Regions from separate parts of the Homo sapiens genome. Here all the other regions are reported to be linked to region 4. The links are microRNA targets in miRTarBase. Many come from high-throughput screens and were not tested one by one. Region 4 holds a microRNA gene; each other region holds the end of a gene's coding sequence.

What was found. The annotated mature microRNA hsa-miR-3929 reads GAGGCUGAUGUGAGUAGACCACU and lies in region 4 at 1,735-1,757, shown strand. An mRNA with a match to its seed (bases 2 to 7 or 8) in the 3' UTR can be bound and repressed. Matches are read on the target gene's strand: a 7mer-m8 pairs with bases 2 to 8, a 7mer-A1 pairs with bases 2 to 7 and ends in A, and an 8mer does both.
Region 1: the mRNA of SLC60A1 is a reported target of hsa-miR-3929. Seed matches in the 3' UTR shown: 7mer-m8 at 3,237-3,243, 7mer-m8 at 2,383-2,389 and 7mer-m8 at 2,029-2,035.
Region 2: miRTarBase lists MRE11 as a target of hsa-miR-3929. Seed matches in the 3' UTR shown: 7mer-m8 at 1,077-1,083, 7mer-m8 at 431-437, 7mer-m8 at 284-290 and 7mer-A1 at 239-245.
Region 3: the mRNA of TMED10 is a reported target of hsa-miR-3929. Seed matches in the 3' UTR shown: 7mer-m8 at 1,259-1,265 and 7mer-m8 at 1,124-1,130.
Region 5: the mRNA of PER2 is a reported target of hsa-miR-3929. Seed matches in the 3' UTR shown: 7mer-m8 at 2,254-2,260.

Annotation. Positions count from the first base shown.
Region 1 is chr1:205,599,611-205,603,733 of GRCh38, reverse strand. SLC60A1 (solute carrier family 60 member 1) reads right to left here. Exons shown (of 10, transcript NM_181644.5): 10 at 816-3,328. The coding sequence ends at 3,273. Among named protein-coding and RNA genes, the nearest start is that of ELK4, 30 kb to the left of the region's middle. RefSeq lists an enhancer at 2,570-3,769.
Region 2 is chr11:94,416,324-94,420,425 of GRCh38, forward strand. MRE11 (MRE11 double strand break repair nuclease) reads right to left here. Exons shown (of 20, transcript NM_005591.4): 20 at 1-3,858. The coding sequence ends at 3,802. Among named protein-coding and RNA genes, the nearest start is that of GPR83, 17 kb to the left of the region's middle.
Region 3 is chr14:75,131,026-75,135,125 of GRCh38, forward strand. TMED10 (transmembrane p24 trafficking protein 10) reads right to left here. Exons shown (of 5, transcript NM_006827.6): 5 at 444-3,981. The coding sequence ends at 3,860. Among named protein-coding and RNA genes, the nearest start is that of NEK9, 6.0 kb to the left of the region's middle.
Region 4 is chr18:35,931,722-35,935,844 of GRCh38, reverse strand. It overlaps MIR3929 (microRNA 3929), which reads left to right and starts at 1,703; the gene lies at 1,703-1,757.
Region 5 is chr2:238,242,690-238,246,812 of GRCh38, forward strand. It overlaps PER2 (period circadian regulator 2), which reads right to left. Exons shown (of 23, transcript NM_022817.3): 23 at 1,355-3,835. The coding sequence ends at 3,686. Among named protein-coding and RNA genes, the nearest start is that of HES6, 4.7 kb to the left of the region's middle. RefSeq lists an enhancer at 3,459-4,123.

The DNA.
Region 1 (4,123 bases), not on the chromosome of region 4:
AGCCACTGTGCCTGGCCCTAGAGCATCTCTTGACATTCCCTATTCCCATTCCATACTCCCTGTATGTTTCTTTATGGTGCTACATTACCCCTCACCCTGTGGCATTCCCATATCCTATTCCATATTCCCTGTATGTATGTTTCTCTATGGTGCTACATTACCCCTCACCCTGTGGCATGTTACGTGTAGTATTTGTTTGCTGTCTGTATGTCTTCACCTGCGGTATAATCCTTGTGAGGCAGGGACTTCTGTCTCAGTCACCACTGTATGTCTGTACCTAGATTAGTGCCTTGAACATAGCAGGTGCTTAACAAATCCTTTTTGACTGAATAAACGAAATTCACTCTAAAAGAACTCTATGTCACTGTGTCTTCTTTTAGTGAATCCGATGTGCCTGATGGGTTAGATTTCCATATACAAGTAGCAGAGGAAAATCTGGGAACAGGGTGATTCCACAGGATTCTGAAATGTCCAAATTCCTGAAAGGAAGATGAGGAAGAAAGTCCTACTTGTGTAACTGAGAAGCGTGTGGTGTAAGAATCGACCTGCCTTTTCCTTATTCCTTATTCTGATTTTATGTAATAGGGAATAGTGGCACTTAGCCCTGCTATGAGAGGTTATTTATTTATTTATTTATTTATCTTTTTTTAAAAAAATTCAGAGTTTCCCTTGTGAGACAGTTTTCTTTCTTCTAAAATATAAGCCACATTAACTTATTAGTATGAGAGAGACCTGCCTCTGGGGAACATCAGACCATTTGTTTCTGAGTGTATGCAAGAGGATCAATTGTTCTTCATAATGGATAACACACTTAATAAGTTTAAATATTTTATTTTAGGAAAGGTACTCTTAGATTTGTGTTAATGTTGTTTTCTGTATTAACAAATTAGTCACAATCAACTTCGATATAGCCATTGATTCTTCTTTCTAAATCTGTATAAAAAGGATATTTTCTTGAAAAACCACAAGAAAAATACAACTGCTTTTTCATTGCCCAGGTCAGTTACTCGCTACAGTCAGACTGCATTTAAATTAGACTGGCATCTAATACTTTTGAGTATTTACAAATATAATTAAAACTATACTCCTAGACCACCAGCTTTCAAAAAAGTTGGATCTGCTTGACTTGCAATAAATATGTACCAAACATGAATAATTTCTAAGCCGCTTATGAGGAGGTTTTAAAAATTACTAACATTTATTAAGCAGTTTGTGTGTCAGGCATATTGTGAGTGCTTTGCTTTATACAAATTCACTTACTTTTTTCAGAATTCCTTTGAGGTAGGGTAGGTACTTTTAGAAATGCCATTTTACATGTGAAAAGTGAGGTTGGAAGAGCCTCAGTAACCTGCCCAGGGCCACACAGCTAGAAGGTGAGCCAGCACTTGAGCCACGTTTCTCTTTCCAGCCAGATTCTCAGCACTCAGCTGTGCTGCTGGTGGTCACAGCTGGCTGACTGGACCAGGAAGAACCTTTTAGTGTCAGGCGTGTGAATCACAGCACTTGGGACAGGTTACCAAGAACCATGATCACTTAATTTTTATATTTATACATGTACATTTGTATATACATAGAGAAAGTGCAGGCAAAACCATTATACAGTTACTCTAATAGCCATTTGCTACTGCCAGCAGTCTCAGGACTGATCCCTGTCTAAGCTGGCAAGTTTACATTCTCCTTGTATCACTACAGGATTTGCTCTGGACAGGAGCTGTAACTCCTCAACAAATCCTGCTTTCAGTCTACTACTGCACAGCTTGAATTGTTCAGTAGGCCCAGCTTTTTGTGAAAGAAAAGGCCTTGCCATGGTATAAAGAGTTTTTTTCCCTCTATAAAAGATGTAAAATTTTTGGCTGGGTGCAGTGGCTCACGCCTGTAATCCCAGCACTTTGGGAGGCCGAGACGGGCAGATCATGAGGTCAGGAGATCAAGACCATCCTGGCTAACACGGTGAAATCCCGTCTCTACTAAAAATACAAAAAATTAGCTGTGCGTGATGGCATGCGCCTGTAGTCACAGCTACTTGGGAGGCTGAGGCAGGAGAATCGCTTGAAACTGGGAGGCGGAGGTTGCAGTGAGCCGAGATGACGCCACTGCATTCCAGCCTGGCAACAGAGTGAGACTCTGTCTCAAAAACAAAAACAAAAACAAAAAAAGATGTAAAATTTTCATTAGGTATTTTCAGAAAGTCTTAGTGCTGTTTCTATACCTTTTATATGCTAGTCAATGTCAGTAGAAAAAAATGGAACATCCATTTCATTCTCCTGGGCGATTTCTGGACCAGTTAGCCTTGATTACTAGCAGTGGTATGCTGGTAAATGTTTAACCACTGGCTCTCCGGGATCTGTAGCTTTTGCCAGTGTCCATGGTAATACTCCCACCAGGCTGATTTCAAGCTACCAACATGCTATCACGAAGAGTGGAGTTGAGACAAGGTGCACAGTAGCACACCATCATATATAGTAATTCCACCACACAGGTACCATGGACGTAAATTACCTCAAGAGCATCAAGATCAAATTAGGAAGTGATATGCTTTGAATATTTATTACCTTTGTTTTAAATGTAATTGATTTAATTATAAGTTTGTATGATTTGATTTTTAATAATGGCTGCATTTAATAACCAGCTGTCAAAATGAAAATTTTACAATCAGCTTTTCTAAGTTGGTATGAGCCAGCTTAGCATACCACTACATTAGTATACCAAAGAGAGCAAGATTCAACTTTTCCTTTTGGTGTTTGAGAATATAGATAAGCTATTGATGTCTGCAGCAGGAATTTAAGAGACTTTGGACTATTAAGTGAAAAGCACGAAAATCCTTTGAGCATGCCAGGGAATAACTTGCAGCTTGTTTTGCTTAAATTGAAATATATCTACATATAGCAATGATCATGGAGCTTTACAATTTCAACCTATTTTTACAAACTTCAATGAAGAATGATCTCAAACCCAGAGTATGGTCCATGCATGAGGTGACAAATGGAGTGAAGCGCGCGGCTGTCTCCTTCCTTCCCATCTGGGTATCTGGACAGCTCTTACCAACAGTCTGAACCAGGGAAGAAGATAACTTGAGAAGCCAGGTAAACTTCTAATGATTTTGACCAGGTACCAGGACTCAATTTAATTTCCTCTACCCAACCAAGTTTTAGTGGAGAAGACTTGAATAGCCATTGAGAGAGCGCCTCCACCACCACCCAGCTTTCTGAAACAGTATGGTCGTGCTGGTGATCAAGAGGCTGAAAGTCTTCTCTTGCCTTCTTCACCCAGTTTTACCTCTGGTAGCACTCAGAGTTTTCCATTCCAATTGATCTGTCTTGGGTAGGAACTACAAAAGAAAAACAAAACAGGTAGCATGTTTCAGCAGCTCTGATGAGTTGCAGTGATGATTCATTCTGAGAGCTTACCCAGGCTGTTTGTTTCTCTGCCATTCTGTGGCTCTAGAGGGAGCAAAGTGAAAAGTCAGACCCCCTAGTTCTGGCGAACAGTTGGTGGAGGCAGTTTCCTGAGACTGCTGTCTAGGGCTTGGGGAATGTGTCTGTCTCCCATGAATAAGGAGCCCATTAAGTGTTATTCATTTAATGTTCAGCAAATATTAATTGAATGTAGGTCTTAAATGAAACTCCTGTGTGTGTGCAACCAGTACTGCTGTCTCAGAAGTGAGGCTATAGTTAGTGCTGTTTTGGGGGCCACCTTTCCTTCTGGGCCTTTGTACTGAGCGTTTAGAGCGTAGATATGTTCACCCACTGAGAGCGGATGGTGAATGCCTGTTCCTTTAGTCTTTTTGTGATGATTTTGCTTTTTATAGGGAGGACAGAGTCTCCGCCTGGGCACCTTCTCTTAAGAACTGGCTTTGCACACAGCCGATGCAGTCCCTGGGCACTTTGAAAGCAGTGGGCAAAAGGGCAGGTAAGGGCTCAGGGTTATGAAAATTGCTTTGGGACTCCCCCTGCCTGGGGTCTCTAGAAGGGAGACTATTCTTAGGAGGTGTCTGTGCCCTGAAGGAGACTTTCTTTGCTACTTGGCCTGAAGGACTTCTTTTTGAAAAAAAGATTTGGACTAGAATCAAAATCCTGAACTGCAAAGAGATGGCCAATTAGGCCGTTGGGCTGAGTTCCAGCCA
Region 2 (4,102 bases), not on the chromosome of region 4:
AATGTACATGGCAACAGCAAGTTATATAAGCTGGTTCTTTAGATCAAACTAAAATTCTAGTATTTTCTGACCAAACTAAGTTCAAAAGTACTAAAAGAAAATGAAACAGGCAAATGATGAAATGTGGATCTTTTTCATTCAAGAATATGGAAACTCATTGGACTGAAAAACCCAAATCTTCATTATACCAAACTTCTATAATGATCTTAATGGTAGTTAGCTTTAAAAAAACACAAAATAGGCTGGGCGTGGTGGCTCAGGCCTGTAATCCCAGCACTTTGGGAGGCTGAGGTGGGTGGATCACAAGGTCAGGAGATCGAGACCATCCTGGCTAACACAGAAAAACCCTGTCTCTACTAAAAATACAAAAAAAAAAAAAAAAAAATTAGCCAGGCGTGGTGGTGGGCGCCTGTAGTCCCAGCTACTTGGGAGGCTGAGGCAGGAGAATGGCGTGGAGCTTGCAGTGAGCCGAAATGGTGCCCCTGCCCTCCAGCCTGGGCAAGAGTGCGAGACTCCGTCTCAAAAAAAAAAAACAAAAAAAACCCAAAATACTATGAATTAAATTTATGACAGATACAAAAAGGACATCAGATTTCTTTGGGGGAAAGTCGCTTTTAAATTCTATATTTCCAAAAAAGATATTTTACATTTAGATACTTTTTTTTTTTTTGAGATTGAGTTTCACTCTTGTTGCCCAGGCTGCAGTGCAATGGCACAATCTCGGCTCACTGCAACCTCTGCCTCCTGGGTTCAAGCGATTCTCCTGCCTCAGCCTCCTGAGTAGCTAAGATTACAGGCACACACCACCATGCCCAGCTAATCTTTTGTATTTTTAGTAGAGACGAGGTTTCACCATGTTGGCCAGGCTGGTCTCAAACTCCTGACCTCAGGTGAACCCCCTCCTCGGCCTCCCAAAGTGCTGGGATTAAAGGCATGAGCCACTGCACCCAGCCCATTGAGATACTTTTTTACTCAGTTTTTTTCTAAGAATGGATTTTCCTCTTTATGAAAACAAAATATTCCTTTTCTTTATAAAACTTTATAGGCAAATTTATCAAGCTGGTAAATTCCATAACAGGCTGAACCAAATGAAATACCTAAGTAAAGCAAATTACATGATTAGAAGGCTAATTATGGTATTACTGCATAGGTTTAGTATTAATGCATATGTTCTAAGTTTATTGCAACTACACTAACTTCGTAATTTTAGATTTGCAGTTGCATCCTCCTAACTGCGTCTAATGGCAGAAGCACCACCTTGTGGCAAAAGTAGGAGCTTTTAAATTACAGAAGTTAGGGCTTGTTACCCAGAAAGGAGAAAACAATATAATGGGCATCCAGGACACTGCGCTATTTCTTGACCTGTAGAGGGATTCCATCAGTGCTCAATTTATAATTATTTATTCAACCATATGACTTTTCTGTATTTATTGTATTTCCTACTTTTAAAAGTTTGGGAAAAAAGTCTTTTACATACCTGAATTAAAGGTCACATTCCTAAATGCTTGAATTTTCTAAGCACCACTTATATTTTCAAGAATTTCCTAGAACTTCGAGGAATCTTTAACCTTGTAAATGCACTGTTGTATTTTTATGATAGGAAATAAAACACCAGAAAGACACTTATTCTTTGGTAAGTAACAGAAGAATTCCCTACAGATGTCTTCCTCTGAATGTTTTCATTCCTGCTCTCCCAAAGCCTCCAAGAGCAAATGCAGCTGCTTTCAAATCATCTGAAAGACTTCTACATTCCTATACCAACAGGTCTGAAAATTGTTAGAAACAAAAAACAAAACTCCCCTAAAACCAACAGATTTTGCAGGATCAATATAAAATATTAAGGATATATAGCACATTTAACTATGTAACAATATTCAATCAAAAAAAGGTTTCCCTGTCACGTTTTATTTACCATATTTTCAGGGCTTGATACATAGTATTCACAAAATGACCTGAATTAGCTGGAGAGATTTATCACCCTCTGTAACTGCTATGTCATCACTTTCCTTAGCGGTGAACTGAATCGCATTTAGTACCTCTTTTCACAGCCAAGAGCAATTTTTTTTTTTTTAAGGAAAAAAACTTTATTCCTTTTTTCCTAGGAACTTGTCAGGATACTTTAGTGACCATTCCCTCACTATAACTCTCACCCAGACCCACCTAACTGATGCATGAGAAGAGCCACTAGCTGATGTGGCCCACAGCTCAGACTGAGCCAGCATGGCTTGTGCAGGGGTAGGTAGCACAGCATCATCCAGACACTGCCTCCCCTGGTAGCTTCCATTACATCATGGACAGCACTGCTCTTCCCTGACTTAACCTTCTGCTTTGTTCAAATACTAGAAATATTAGATTTCAAGTTCAATAAAGATGTGGGCAGATCTGCCTAAGAATATTTCACAGGACAATGCCTTCCACTGAGTTAATGTTACTTGCTCAAATAACCCTTATGCTCAAGTTAGGTACAGAAAAAATATTTTTAAGAAAGTCAATAGAATGTTATATTGCAAGTTTTGACTTAGGCCTCTTCAAAAGTGCTATATGAGGCAGCCACTAACCAAGTGTCTGTCTCTTATAATTTGACACATTCCAGGTATGACTATTCTAATGGTCATGAGTATCACTGAGTCAAGTATTTGTTTCTACCTATGAAGAAATGTCGGGCCATTGTACTCCCAAGATGTATAACTTGAATTTTAAAGTAAAGCTGTCGCATAAAACTAGAAGAAGGAATAATCTCAGGGATCTTTTTACAGAGGATTATAAAGAATGGGATTATTTAACTTAAATCTGAAGATGTCTAATTCTTATTTCTCCCCGAAAACAAGTAAAAAATAGAAGCTTAACATGGGCTACTAAGATTTCTGGAATTGCCCATTCAGAAATGTATCACAGGAACCAAAGTTGAGATAAAATATTGTTAATGAGAAATCCTGGCATTGACATTCCACATTAAATATATTTCTATACTTTACTGTAAGGTTCAACTGACCACTCTACCTAAAACAAATTCTTCAATATTTTCAAGATGTAGTTTAAAACAATTTTTAACCCGTTTCCTCCTAGAACTAGGCACGCATATATGTATGAAAGAGAAGAAAAAGCAAAGGAGAAAGGAAGAGTGGGGAACGGGGGGGAGAGGGAGAGAGAGAGAGAGAGAGAGAGAGAGAGAACACCATTAAGGATACAGAATAATAAAGGAAATTACTACCACTTAATGGGAACACAATCTTTTGAAATCTTTGCTACAACTGGAATAAAAAACTCAGTAATTCTGAAAGGTTATTCTACTCTTTTAAATAAAAACATATCTGTTCAAACTATTAGGTACTTCTAATCATTTAGTCTTATAAGAAGCATTGGAAAAAAACATACATAGTAACAAACAGTGAATTTAGACATAGGTTCGCATAAATTGTTTTACTTTCAGAAAACCCAGAACCTCTAGGAAATTACTAAAATTATGAAGAAGTTAAATTTTATAAGCTCTTTCCCTCAACTTTGGCTAAATGTAACCATATTAAAATACTGACATAGTTTTTCATTATGAAATAGAAATGTAAAATGGTAGCTTTATTTTAATCTTTACTCAAGAGTGATATTGAAACAAAGCTCTTACTACAACAACCAGGTTAAAAAAACAAGGTGAATCAATGCTATTGTATGTCTGTGAACTAGAAATTTCTTACTTATGGAGTTATGCTCAGGAAACAATACTTAAAATCTTAAACTGTAAACTCTTAGCTTGTAACATTTTCATTTTTCCTGTATCTTGCATGTTTCTCAGTGCCATTAAATATATTATCTTCTATTTCTTCTTAAAGAACTAGTGTTCATAAAAGGATCATCATCATCATCCTGAAATGAGATACAAATGTTGTATTAGTGATTGTTCCCTGCTTCACTGAAACAAGACAGAAGTTCTTATGGGCAAAACAATACCAGTGAGAGTCATTTCACATGGGATAGACTTTATTTTTCTATTTCCTTTATAACTGCAAAATATATTAAGTACAATTAAATTCTTAATGAGCATTAAAATGAAAATTTATCCTGCTGTGTGTGCATGTATCTACAATATAAACCACACACATTTCCCTTA
Region 3 (4,100 bases), not on the chromosome of region 4:
AGGATTCATATACCGGGGGTGGGGGGTGGGGGTCTTTTAGGAATGAAAGGCAGGGGAGATGGCTCTCTGTAGGAGTGATTCTATGCAATTGCAATTTTAATTGCAAAAACCACAATTACTTTTGTGCGAACCTAATAGTAACAGTTTCCAAAAGAGAGAAGATAAAGAGAATAAAATGCCTAGCTTACAGAACCATATTTGGTCTGAGGATGCATAATTAAGGATTCTTAATTATATATATATATATAATTTACATATATTACATACAAAATATGATAATCTTTTACTAGCTCATATAAACTATCGATCTGCAGTAACTGAAGAATAACAATATTTTTTCTCTAATTCATCAGGTATAATTTGCCATAATTTAAAAGAGAAATATGGAAGAATTATCACCAATCCAGACATAGAAGTACTCAAGAGTAACAGTACACCTAAAATGGTTTCTGCTAGCCTTTATTTGAGAAAATTTACACAAAAATCCCCAATCCAACATTTACAAGTGAATCTGTATAAATCCCATATGCCTCTTTCCCAAACAAACCAAGAAATGGCTTTATGACAGGGGTCCATGACAATGGTATAACAAGGCTTACTTAAACTGCATCATTCTCATTTATATTATACAGACCATTTTGGATAATATGCTCAAAAATGGAGGAAAGCACATAACACCCGATTTTAAAGCTTATTTGCTCTTGTGTCAGTCTTTTGTCAAAGGCAAATACATTTACTTTTTAGATAAAACCAAAGTATAATATCAATTAACTTTTAAACCAAAAGCACAAAATGTCCCAGTTGATAGTTTCGGCATGAGTAAAGGGAAGGGACATGAAAGAATGTCAACTCCTACAAAGCTTAAGTTTAGGGTCACACTTGGGAACAAAAGCATCAACGAAATAAAATATTCTCTTCTCCTATCTTCTTGACATTTTGTCACATCACAAGAACATAACTAAGAGAGTAGCTTTCGTTGCTCCTAAAAAGGGGAAAGGCACCAGTCAGAAATAGGAAAGAAAATCTTGTTAGGCTAACGGTACATGATAGAAATTTCACATTTAAAAGTTTAAAGATGGAGGCTGGGTGTGGTGGCTCACGCGTGTAATCCCAGCACTTTGGGAGGCTGAGGCAGGCAGATCACTTGAGGTCAGGAGTTCGAGACCAACCTGGCCAATATGGTGAAACTCTGCTTCTACTGAAAATACAAAAATTAGCCAGGCATGGTGGTGTGCACCTATATTCCCAGCTACTCAGGAGGCTGAGGCAGGAGAATTGCTTGAACCCAGGAGGTGAAGGTTGCAGCGAGCTGAGATAGTGCCATTGCACTCCAGCCTGGGCGTTGCAGCAAGACTCCGTCCCCCCCCCCCCAAAAAAAAAAAAGTTTAAGGATGTATCTTAACCCACATATTATTTTCTCTACTTGGATGCATCCTCTGTAACTTAGTATATGTAATACTACAGATAGACTTTCTCAACATTTGCTGCCTATGCTAAGGATCTGCAGCCAGGTTCTCAGAAGCAGTACCTACCAATTCTCAACAGCAGATGGCAATGTTGTACAAGTTAACGACAGAACTACTTTTATGCCACAGGAGAGGAAGACACAAGGAGTCAAAAGGGGGAAAAAAAAAGTTTGGGTTCATAGTAGCAGGAACATTAACAGAATAGCCTGAGATTTTAACAGCATAACTCATTCCCTCTTCCACCTTTGTACTTTATCCAGGTCAACACATCAGGGTTCTCTAACGATTCCAGTATTCTGTTTCTTTACTGTAAGATACATGTAATTCTTGCCACTGTGATTAAACAAGCCCTGTAATAGTCAGCAGGGTTAAAAAGAGATTACGGAAAGGATAAACTCCTACCTACTTTCTTGGGAGATGTGGGAAAGATTTCAAGTCACAGCATTTTTCATAACTGTTTATAAACAATGGTCATTTATATCCACACTTTCTCTTATTTACATTAGTTTTGGCCCTTAGGCAACTCATACTCCTACAGTGATTATTGGCTTTGCTTTCATAACATGTATTTTTAAGTATTTACTCTCTTAATGGCCCTCGATGTCTATTTTATACATCATATCTCTTAATTCTCTAGATGGAACACTGAAGGACAGGAATTAAGTAAGTGACTGGCCATGCAAGGGTTGGAAATTTTACTTATTTTTCCTTGGTAGAAGTTATGTTAAAAATTCAAGCAACCACATATCTAACAGAGGAATTTTATCTAGGATATATAAAAAACCTCTCAAAACTCAATAGTAAAAAGAACAAATGACCTAAATAGAAAATAGACAAAAGACATGAAGACATTTCACCGAAGAGGATACATAGATGGCAAATTAGCACACAAAAAGATACTCAACATCATTAGCCATTGGAAATGCAAATTAAAACCACATGTGGTATCATTACACACATCTATGTGAATGGTTAAGATAAAAAATAGTAGTAATACCAAATGCTGGTGAGGATGTGAAGAAACTGGATCAATCATACATTGCTGTCTGAATTGTATGAGTGGCTGTATGTAAAAAGTAGAGCCACTCTGGAAAAAGAGTAGGGTAGTTTCTTACAAAAATATATGTGTTTACCATACAACCCAACAGTTGCCCTTTTGAGCATTTATCCCAGAAAATGAAAATGTATGTTCACATAAAAACCTGTACATGAATGTTCACAGCAGCTTTATTAGGGCAAAAAACTGAAAACAACTCTTATGTCCTTTAGTGGGTGAATGGTTAAGCAAACTGTGGTACATCCATACCATGGAATACTACTCAGCAATCAAAAGGAACTGCCCCCACTTCACCACGATGCAATATATGCATGTAAGAAATCTGTACTTATACCCCCTAAATATATAAAACATTTTTAAAAGAAAAAAAGGAAGAAACTATTCATACATGCAACAACTTGGATGGATTTCAAGGGAATTATGCTGAATGAAAAAAGATCAGCCTCGTAAGATTACATTCTGTATGATTCCATTCATACAACATTCTTGAAATGACAAAATTACAGAGATGGAGGACAGAACAGTGGTAGCCACAGGTTGGGGTGAGGGTATAAGAAAGGGATGTGGCTGCGGCTGTAAAAGGGCAGTGCAAGGGATCCATGTGACAGAACTGTTCTGTCTCTTGTGATGGTGGTCACATGAATCTACACATGTGATAATATTGCATAGAATTAAATACACATACACGAAAAAAGTTCAAGCAGTTGAGCACAAATATTTTAATTGTCTAAAATGACATTTTCTTTAAGAGTTATCTACAGTTCAAAGCTCACTTTTATGAGGTGTCACATCCATCACCATTTTAAGAGATATAAAATCATGAAAAGATATCACCAGAAGCTATGTAAACATTTCAGCTAAGGGTAAAGAGAAAGTTAAGGGTGTTTTCACAAGGAAATTGAAAGAGGGCAATCCAAATGAAGTCAACATGGTCACACAAAAATCTTGGTAAAAGAACTAGAATGGAAGCCCAAGCTGCTGAGCAAGTGGGAGAAGAAAAGAAAACATAGTCCAAACAGATCACACAAGGGAACCCAGGACAAATGCTGACTTTGGCATTATCTAGGTAACCCCTATTTTTTGTCATAGGTGACTCTAATAATAGACCTATTGTTGCAAAACCAGTCAAAATCCTACCAAATTAAAAAGAAGTCCCTCATTGACTTGTTGGGTGTAGGTGGTACCCCATGTCCTCCCACACCAAAAGAGATCAGTTCTGGCAAGAAAGCTCCAACGTGCCTTGATGGTGCTGTTGGTAGGATGCCTTAGGCCAGGCACGTCCCAGCGATGTTCTGCTGGCTGAGGTACAAGGTGGGAGGAGAATATGCCTCATTCATTACTCAATCAATTTCTTGGCCTTGAAGAAGCGTCGCAGGTAGAAGACCTGCCAGGTAGCTAGTCCAATGAGACAGAACATTGAAAAGATGCTGAAGTATAGGACCCGAGTGTTTGTTGACTCTAAAAAAAAACAAAAGCATTGTAAACATAATGAAGTGAGCCTCCTCAGCTGGCTAAACAATGGCAGGGGAGGTGGGTAAAGGCAATTAATTAACTTCACTCTGTCCCTAGGTCTAACA
Region 4 (4,123 bases):
TCACTCCATTGACAAGGCTGATGAAAAGAACCACTAGGAGAAGAGCTACTATAAAACTCTGCACATATAATTATTAGGGATGAACAATGCCAGGTTGTGCTTGATGGGCCTTCTAAGTCCTTTTGGAGCCCTCTCACTTTCTGGTAAGCCTTTAGACAAAATCTGCTTTGCGATGCCTCTAGAATGGGGCAGGTGGAAAGCTTCCTGCAATTACATTCCTTTTATATAATGTTTCTCCACCAGAGGTTTGCAGTTTTATAGGATTCACCTGCCAATTGGCAACTGATTTGAGACACGTTAGTGCATCAGCAGAAGTGGGGGACATGCCGAGGGAGCAGCCTGGTGCTTGGCGGAATGTATCCTCTAATCACTTTTCGCCAGAAAGACCCTTAAAGCAATTATACGCTTCTGCAAAGAGAACTGGAAAAGGGTTCTGGATACTTTCTCCTCTTAATTAACCAAAGAATATGCCAATTCTTTTTAGAAAGTAAACTTTTTTCCCTAGTAACTATATTGTCCCATATCTGGTTATAATTTGTGTCTGAAGTAAGTAATTAATAGAGGACTGCCAGAATTTATGAGAATAAGAAACCCCATGAGTTCACGCGTGCACACACACACACTCAGAGGACATTGATATAGTTTGGATACTTGTGCCCTACAAATCTCACGTTGGAATGGCAACCCCAATGTTGGAGGTGGGCCTAGTGGGAGGTGTTTGCATCACAGGGGTGGATCCCTCTTGAGTGGCCTGGTGCCATCCTTGCAGTAATGAGGGAGTTCTTGCTCTACCAATTCGCCCAAGATCTGGTTATTTAAAAGAGCCTGAGACTTCCTTCTCTCTCTTGCTCCCTCTCTCACTACGTGATATACTGGCTCCCCTTCACCTGCTGCCATGATTGGAAGCTTCTGAGGCCCTATGCTTCCTGTATAGGCTGCAGAAGCATGAGCCAAATAAACCCCTGTTCTTTATAAATTACCCAGTTTCAGGTATTCCTTTATTGCAAAGTAAACAGTCTAAGAAAACTGCTGTTTTCTTTACTTGTAATGTGCTTTTCACTGCCTAGCTAAAAGGAGACAATGGCCTCTGTAAAGCACCTTGTCATGGACAAGTGATGCTGGCATATCATTATAATTGTGACCTATGAAATCTTTGCCTATTCTCAGGTTTCAAATATTTTTCTCCTGACAGTTCTATATAGTATACCCTGCTTATCTGCTGGGGACATATTCCAAGACCCCCCAGTGGATACCTGAAACCATGGATACTAAAGAACTGTATATATACTGTGTTGTTTTCCTATATGTATTATTATAAAGTTTAATTTATAAATTATATTATATTATATATAATATTATATTATTATAAAGTTTAATTTATAAATTAGGCACAGGAAGAGATTACAGCAAATTATAATAAAACAGACAATTATAATGATATGCCAGCACCACTATTCTTGCACACTGGGGCCATTACGAACTAAAATAAGGGTTACTTGAACATCAGCACTGTGATGTCACGGCAGTTGATCTGATAACCCAGATGGCTACTAAATGACCCATAGGCAGGTAGCATCTACAGTGTAGATCCACGAGACAAAGGGATGATTCACATCCTAGGAGGGACGGGACAGATGGCCTGAGATTTCATCATGCTACTCAGAACAGCACACAATTTAAAACGTATGAGTTGGCCAGGTGCAGTGGCTCACACCAGTAATCCCAGCACTTTGGGAGGCTGATGTGAGTAGACCACTTGAGCCCGGGAGTTCAAGACCAGCCTGGGCAACATGGCGAACTCCTATCTTTACAAAAAATACAAAAATTAACCAGGCGTGGTGGTGCATGTCTATAGTCCCAGATACTCAGGGGGCTGAGGTTGGAGGATTGCTTGAGCCTGAGAGACCAAGGCTGCAGTGAGCCAAGACTGCGCCATTGCACTCCAGCCTGGGTGACAGAGTGAGATTCTGTCTCAAAAAAATTTTTTTAAAAAGGGATGAATTATTTATTTCTAAAATTTCTCTTTTAGTTTTTTGGATGTGAGTGGATGATGAGCCACATGTCCCTTTGGTTGGCTGAGGGTAACTGAAACCATGGAAAGCAAAACTGTGGTTAAAGGGGGACTACTATAATTTTAGCTGTATTATGTTTAGGTCTATCATCCATATTGAATTAATTTTGTGCATGAGTTGAGATAGGAATTGAGATTCATTTTCTTCCCCATATGGATATCTATTTTTCCAGCATCATTTCTAGAAAAGCGCTTACTTTTCCCATTGGAGCTTCGGTGGCTTTGTCAGTCATTAAGTAACCTTATAGGTGTGAGTCTAGGTCTAGGCTGCCTGTTGTGTTTTATTCATGTATTTGCATAAACTTGCTTTGTGTACATTAGCTTGGCTACTGGAGCCTCAAACTCAGGTTGTGGAAGTCCTCATATTCTGTCTTGTCAGTATTAATTTAGAGATCCTAGGACCTTAGTATTTCCATATAAATGTCAGAATCAATATGTCAGTTTCTCTGAAAACTTGACCTAATTATCAGTCAGATTGCATTGAATCTATAGATCAATCTGAGGAGACTGTATATTATAAAAGCATTGGGTTTTTCAACTTATGAACATGAAATGCCTCTCCATGTATTTAGGTCTTCTAAATTCATAGTTTTCTGCATAGAGTTATTAAATACCTTTTGTTAACCTTATTTCTAAGTATTTAATGTTCTAGATATCATTATAAATAAAATTGGTTTTTAAACTTTTTTTTTGCTGGTAGTAAATCGAAATATAATTGATTTTTTCAGATTGATCTTGTATTCTGTGACCTTGCTATTTTTACATAAATTCCTCAGGATTCTCTTTGCAAACAATGATGTCATTTATACACAAAGGGAGTTTTACTTCTTAATTTTCAATCTTTATGCCTATTATTTCATTTTGTTTTATTTTACTGCCTAGGACCTCCAGTACAATGTTGAACAGAAGTGGTGACAGTAAACATTTTTAGCTTGTTCTTGATAATAAAAGAGGACAATATTTCACCATTATCATAAATGGCAGTTGAACTTAGGGAAATAATGTTTCTGCTTATGAAATGATTACATATTTGTCTTCTCTTTCGTTTTGTTAATATGGTGGATTACATTGACAATTTAATATGTTAAATCAACATTGCACTCTTGTGATACACCTACTTCTTCATGGAATATGAACTTTTGCATGTATTTTTGTATTTGATTTGCTAGTAGTTTGTTTAGGTTCATGAGGGATATTCTGTAGTTTTCTTTTATTGTAATATATTTGCTAGTTTTTTGGTATCAAATTTATATAGGCCTCATAAAAGTGATTCAGACAGTGTTCTCTTCTCTTGTGTTTTAGAAAGAGTTTGTCTATATTTGATGTCATTTCTTTCTCAAATGTTTGACAGAATCAACAAAGAAACTATCTGAGTCTAGAATTTTCTTTGTGTGAAGATTTTTGATAATACGTTCAATTTCTTTACTAAGTATAAGGCTAGTAACATTTTTTCATTGTGTGTTATTTTTATTTTTCAAAGGATTATTCCATTTTATCCAAATTGACAAATTTATTGGCATAAAGTATTCATATATTGCCTTATTATGTTTTAAATGTCTATTGGCTCTATACTGGTGTCCCTGATTTCATTCTTGATATTGCTAATTTGTGTCTTCTTTTTTCCTTTCTTCGTCCAGGTAGAGGTATATAGTTTTTATTCGTATTTTTAAAGAACCATATTTTGGCTCTGTTATTTGTCTGTTGTTTGTCTGCTTTCTCTTTCATTAGTTTTGGCTTTATTTTCTCATGCCTTAGCATTTCTTATAATGTAGATCTGCCAGCAATGAACTCAGGTAGTTTTTATTTGCCTGAAAATATTTTTCTTACTTTCATTCTTGGAGAATATTTTGTTTGGATATCAAATTCTAGGTTGACAGTGTTCCCCCTACCCCCGCACTTTAACTGTGTGGTTCCATTATTTTCTGGCCTATGTTTATCTGATGAAAAGTTGGCCATCATTTATATTCTTATTCCCTTCTACGCAATTTATCTTTTTTTGAGATAGGGTCTCCCTCTGTCACCCATGCTAGAGTGCAGTGATGTGATCTCAGC
Region 5 (4,123 bases), not on the chromosome of region 4:
GAAGGCTGTACATCAGCAAAATCCTTCTTGGTTGGACTGGAAGTTGCCCAAGGTCCCCTCTGCAAGGTCAGCTTCAATTCCCTTTAGCGGTGCACTGGCCAGCTGGCATGGCCTTTTTGTCCCAGAAGCCTGGCCTATCTTGAGGTCACCAAGCCCTCCCTCCCTCCTTCACAGCAGCCTCCCCTAGCCAACACTTCCTGCCATTTGTCCCTTGGGCCAGTCCTGCCTTCAAAGTTTGCCTGAGTATGGACTTCCTGAGCATTTGAGTCCTTTGATCCCCCTAGAGCCAGGAACAGAGGCCAGCAGAGGCTGGGCAGGGTGGTGGTTGCTGCGGGGATACCAGTTAGCAGTGGGGGTGGCAGGCCATAAATCCCTGGGGGAACAAAGGCAGCTGCGGCCTGTAGACTGTCCAGGCCCCTTGTGGGCAATCTGCCCAGGAGACTCAGAGAATCTCCGTTTGGTTTGGAAATAAATCCCTTGGGGTTATATGGTAAATAAAAATACAATTAAGAGTCTTCCAAAAGCACTCAGGTTCAGTGAAACAACCATATCTGGCCATTTAGAGCAGTTTGCAGAGGCCTCTGTGCTCGCTAGGGAGGACTTTGCCTTTTATCCCATCAGCACTTGGCGTTAGGCAGCCAGGCTAGCAGGCAGAGGAGAGCCCCTCCCTTCTGCTCAGGGAGCTTCTCAGAGGCTGGGCATTGGGTTCAGGATCCATTCAGCTCTCTGCTCCCACCCCCAGGGTCATGGTTTGAAGAGTGGGAGGGATGGGGAGCAACTCTTCGGGCTTCCACAGTTTTGGCCTCACAAGGCTTCATTCATCACTGTGAAAGAAGGGCTGGGGTCAGGGGACTATGCCGCCCTGCCCATATCATTCGCAATGGAGACATGTGACCTTCCTGGTGGAGCCTCCTGACCGCCCCACCTTTAGCCCTACCTAGCCCGATGACCAGAAGACAGGCAGCCAGCCTGGAAAGGCCAGGTAACCCAGGGCAGGGATGCAGGGAAGACAGAGGTGCGTGGAGGCAGAGCTGGGGGCACTCTGGGGCTGAGCCAGACAGCTGCACCCCTCCAACTAAAAGTGAAAAGACTGTGGGGCATGACACGATTAGGTTTGCATTACGTGAGTTCACTCCTGCAGCCTGAAGGAGGGTGTGTGTGTGACACGCACAGGAAGAAAGGGAGCCAGCAAGAAGCAAACGCTATAAGGGAGCTGACCGCCAGGAGGCCTTTGGGATGTAAGATTCTTTAATGCAGAATTCCTGGAGTTCTTTAAAAAAATTTTTTTTAAATAATCTTTGCTCTCTATTCAGGTTTTCCTTTGTGCTATGTGAAAAATACATACAAGTAAAAATAAAAATATACTTGCTTTATTTACCAATTTTCTAAAAGGCAAACAGGTCATAAAAAGACACAAGCAGTCAAACAAATCTATTGCACTGGGTAAAGAAAGTTTGGTTTGCACACAAACAAACCACTTGTCCAGCAAGGCTCAACAAATCATCACAGAAACTCTGAGAGCTTATTTACATATCTCTTCGGGAATATATTAAAAAGAAGGCTCAGTTTAAAATAGAGAAAAACTGTTTAACACCTGTGTAAGCACACACACTAAAGAAAACATGACTTGATGCTTGGCATCACGTAAACAAATTCACAAGATGATCCTATTAAGTCAACTGCTTGGCACGCGCTGAAGCTACAGTTAACAATCAGTGAGCACATATTAAATGATAAAATAATGCTGATGGTAAACATTCATAACAGCAGAGTAAGATTTTGGCAGTTTTGTGTTTCGGTAACATAACTGTAACCTTAGATGAACACCTATCCCTTCATGATCTGACTTTAGAGGCAAGGAGTTTGTAACATCTAATGGCCATAAGAATGCAGACTGCTACCTTATCATAGGCATAGGCAGCTGATGTTACTTTGTAAATTAACGAAAAATTAAAGTGTTCTTGTGTTTATGAAGAATAGGTTTAATAGTCAGGCATAAGATGGTTTTACGATGAAAACCTAGTGGATTACAAAGAGATTTCACCTCCATCAAAAAACAGAAAACCCTGGTCCCAGTTGGGCGTGGTGGCTCACGCCTGTAATCCCAGCACTTTGGGAGGCCGAGGTGGGTGGATCGCTTGAGGTCAGGAGTTCGAGACCAGCCTGGCCAACATGGTGAAACCCTGTCTCTACTAAAAATACAAAAAATTAGCTGGGTGTGGTGGCAGTCGCCTGTGGTCCCAGCTACTCAGGAGGCTGAGGCAGGAGAATCGCTTGAACCTGGGAGGCAGAGGTTGCAGTGAGCCAAGATGGCGCCACTGCACTCCAGCCTGGGCAAAAAGAAACTCCATCTAAAAAAAAAAAAAAAAAAAAAAAAAAAAGAAAACCCTGGTCCCTTTTAAGCCTCATAGTCTTGGTCCAATTTTAAGTCAACTGTTCTTCAGTGATAACTTTGAATTTCCACCAGGGACCAATATTAAATTTTCTGAACCATCTTTGGAATATACAATGCAACATGAGGTTTTGTAAAAAGCCGGGCAGACTGGCCTCACTTTTCCCCAAGTGTCCAAATGACCTAAAAGTGCTGGGGACACTGGCAGAGGCCTGAAGCTGCTCCGAGAGAGGTCGGGCTCATGAAAAGAATGAGGGCTGTGCACCCAACCCAGGGTGCAGTGGGAGAGGTGAGCTCACTGCACCCCTGAAAATACAGATGCAGTCGCAAGCTGTCAGACTGAGTGGCAGTGGCTGCTCTCGGCCAGGAGATGTGATGTGGGCTTGGCTGGGTGGAAGCAGATGTCTGGGTGGTTCCAACGGAAGAAAACCAAACAGGACTGGGTCTCACATGTGTTGGTCACAGCCTGGTTTGCAAAGGGAAGTCACCATAAAGAGATGACTGATGACATATTTTAATCTCCATATTGGCCATCATGGTCTGAAAAGGAGACAAGAATAATGCAGAAATATACAGAGGGTCTGTCTGCGTGTGCATTCATCCGATGGAGTTGGCCACACAAACCACTAGGCTTCTTTAGTCCAGAGCAAATGTTTCAACTTTGTTCACTACAAACAAAACCTATGTCAGACTGAAATATTGACCACACCAGAAGCCAAAGCTGTTGGTTTGCCAAACAACGCTTCACACCATTTAATGTGAAACGTTTTGAAATAAAACTAGGAGAGGCTGCTATCTCCATTTGGTATGTATAAAAAAACACTCTACCTTGACTAAATGATAATTCAGATAAAAAGCAGTCCCCAAGAGAGGACAAAATTTGATCTGATCCAAACACCCTGGGAAAGCTCTGGAAGCCAGAGTCCCCAGCTGGTGCAGCAGACAGAGGTCTCGTCACAGTCACAGGACTTCTGGGAGCACTGAGGCAACTTCCCTGACACTAAGAGGCGCTTAGTCTTTCTCAAGTTAAATAACAACTAAAATCTCTTCCCCATCCCACAAAACTCCACATATATATTTTATATATAAAAACATATTTCTTTCCGAACTCTCCCCACTCTCCACAGTTTTAAGTCGCCCCTTCAGAAAACTATGTTGTTTTTTTTTCTAAAACAAAAAAAGCAACATGAGCATATGTGTCCATTTCAGTGGAAACAGCCATGAAGATCTTTCATCTCTTCCAAGCACCACCTGGTGTACCTCGCTGGCTGCCGGGCTGAGGTGGGGCAGGGGTTACGTCTGCTCTTCGATCCTGTGATTCAAGGGGGATCCATTTTCGTCTTCTTTGGTGTCCGACACTTCGCTGAGTCCCAGAGAAGGAATATCTTCCTCATATGGTATGCAAATATTACCTTTTTCCTTGTTTTCACAGTAAACACATTCCTTAAAAGAAAAAAAAAGAGAAATCAGTAACAAACTTGAGATCTGAGTTGTTACAAAAGTCATTCAAATTGGCCGGGCGCGGTGGCTCACGCCTGTAATCCCAGCACTTTGGGAGGCCGAGGCGGGCAGATCACGACGTCAGGAGATCGAGACCTTCCTGGCTAACACGGTGAAATCCCATCTCTACTAATAATACAAAAAATTAGCTGGGCGTGGTGGCAGGCACCTGTAGTCCCAGCTACTTGGGAGGCTGAGGCAGAAGAATCGCTTGAACCCTGGAGGCAGAGC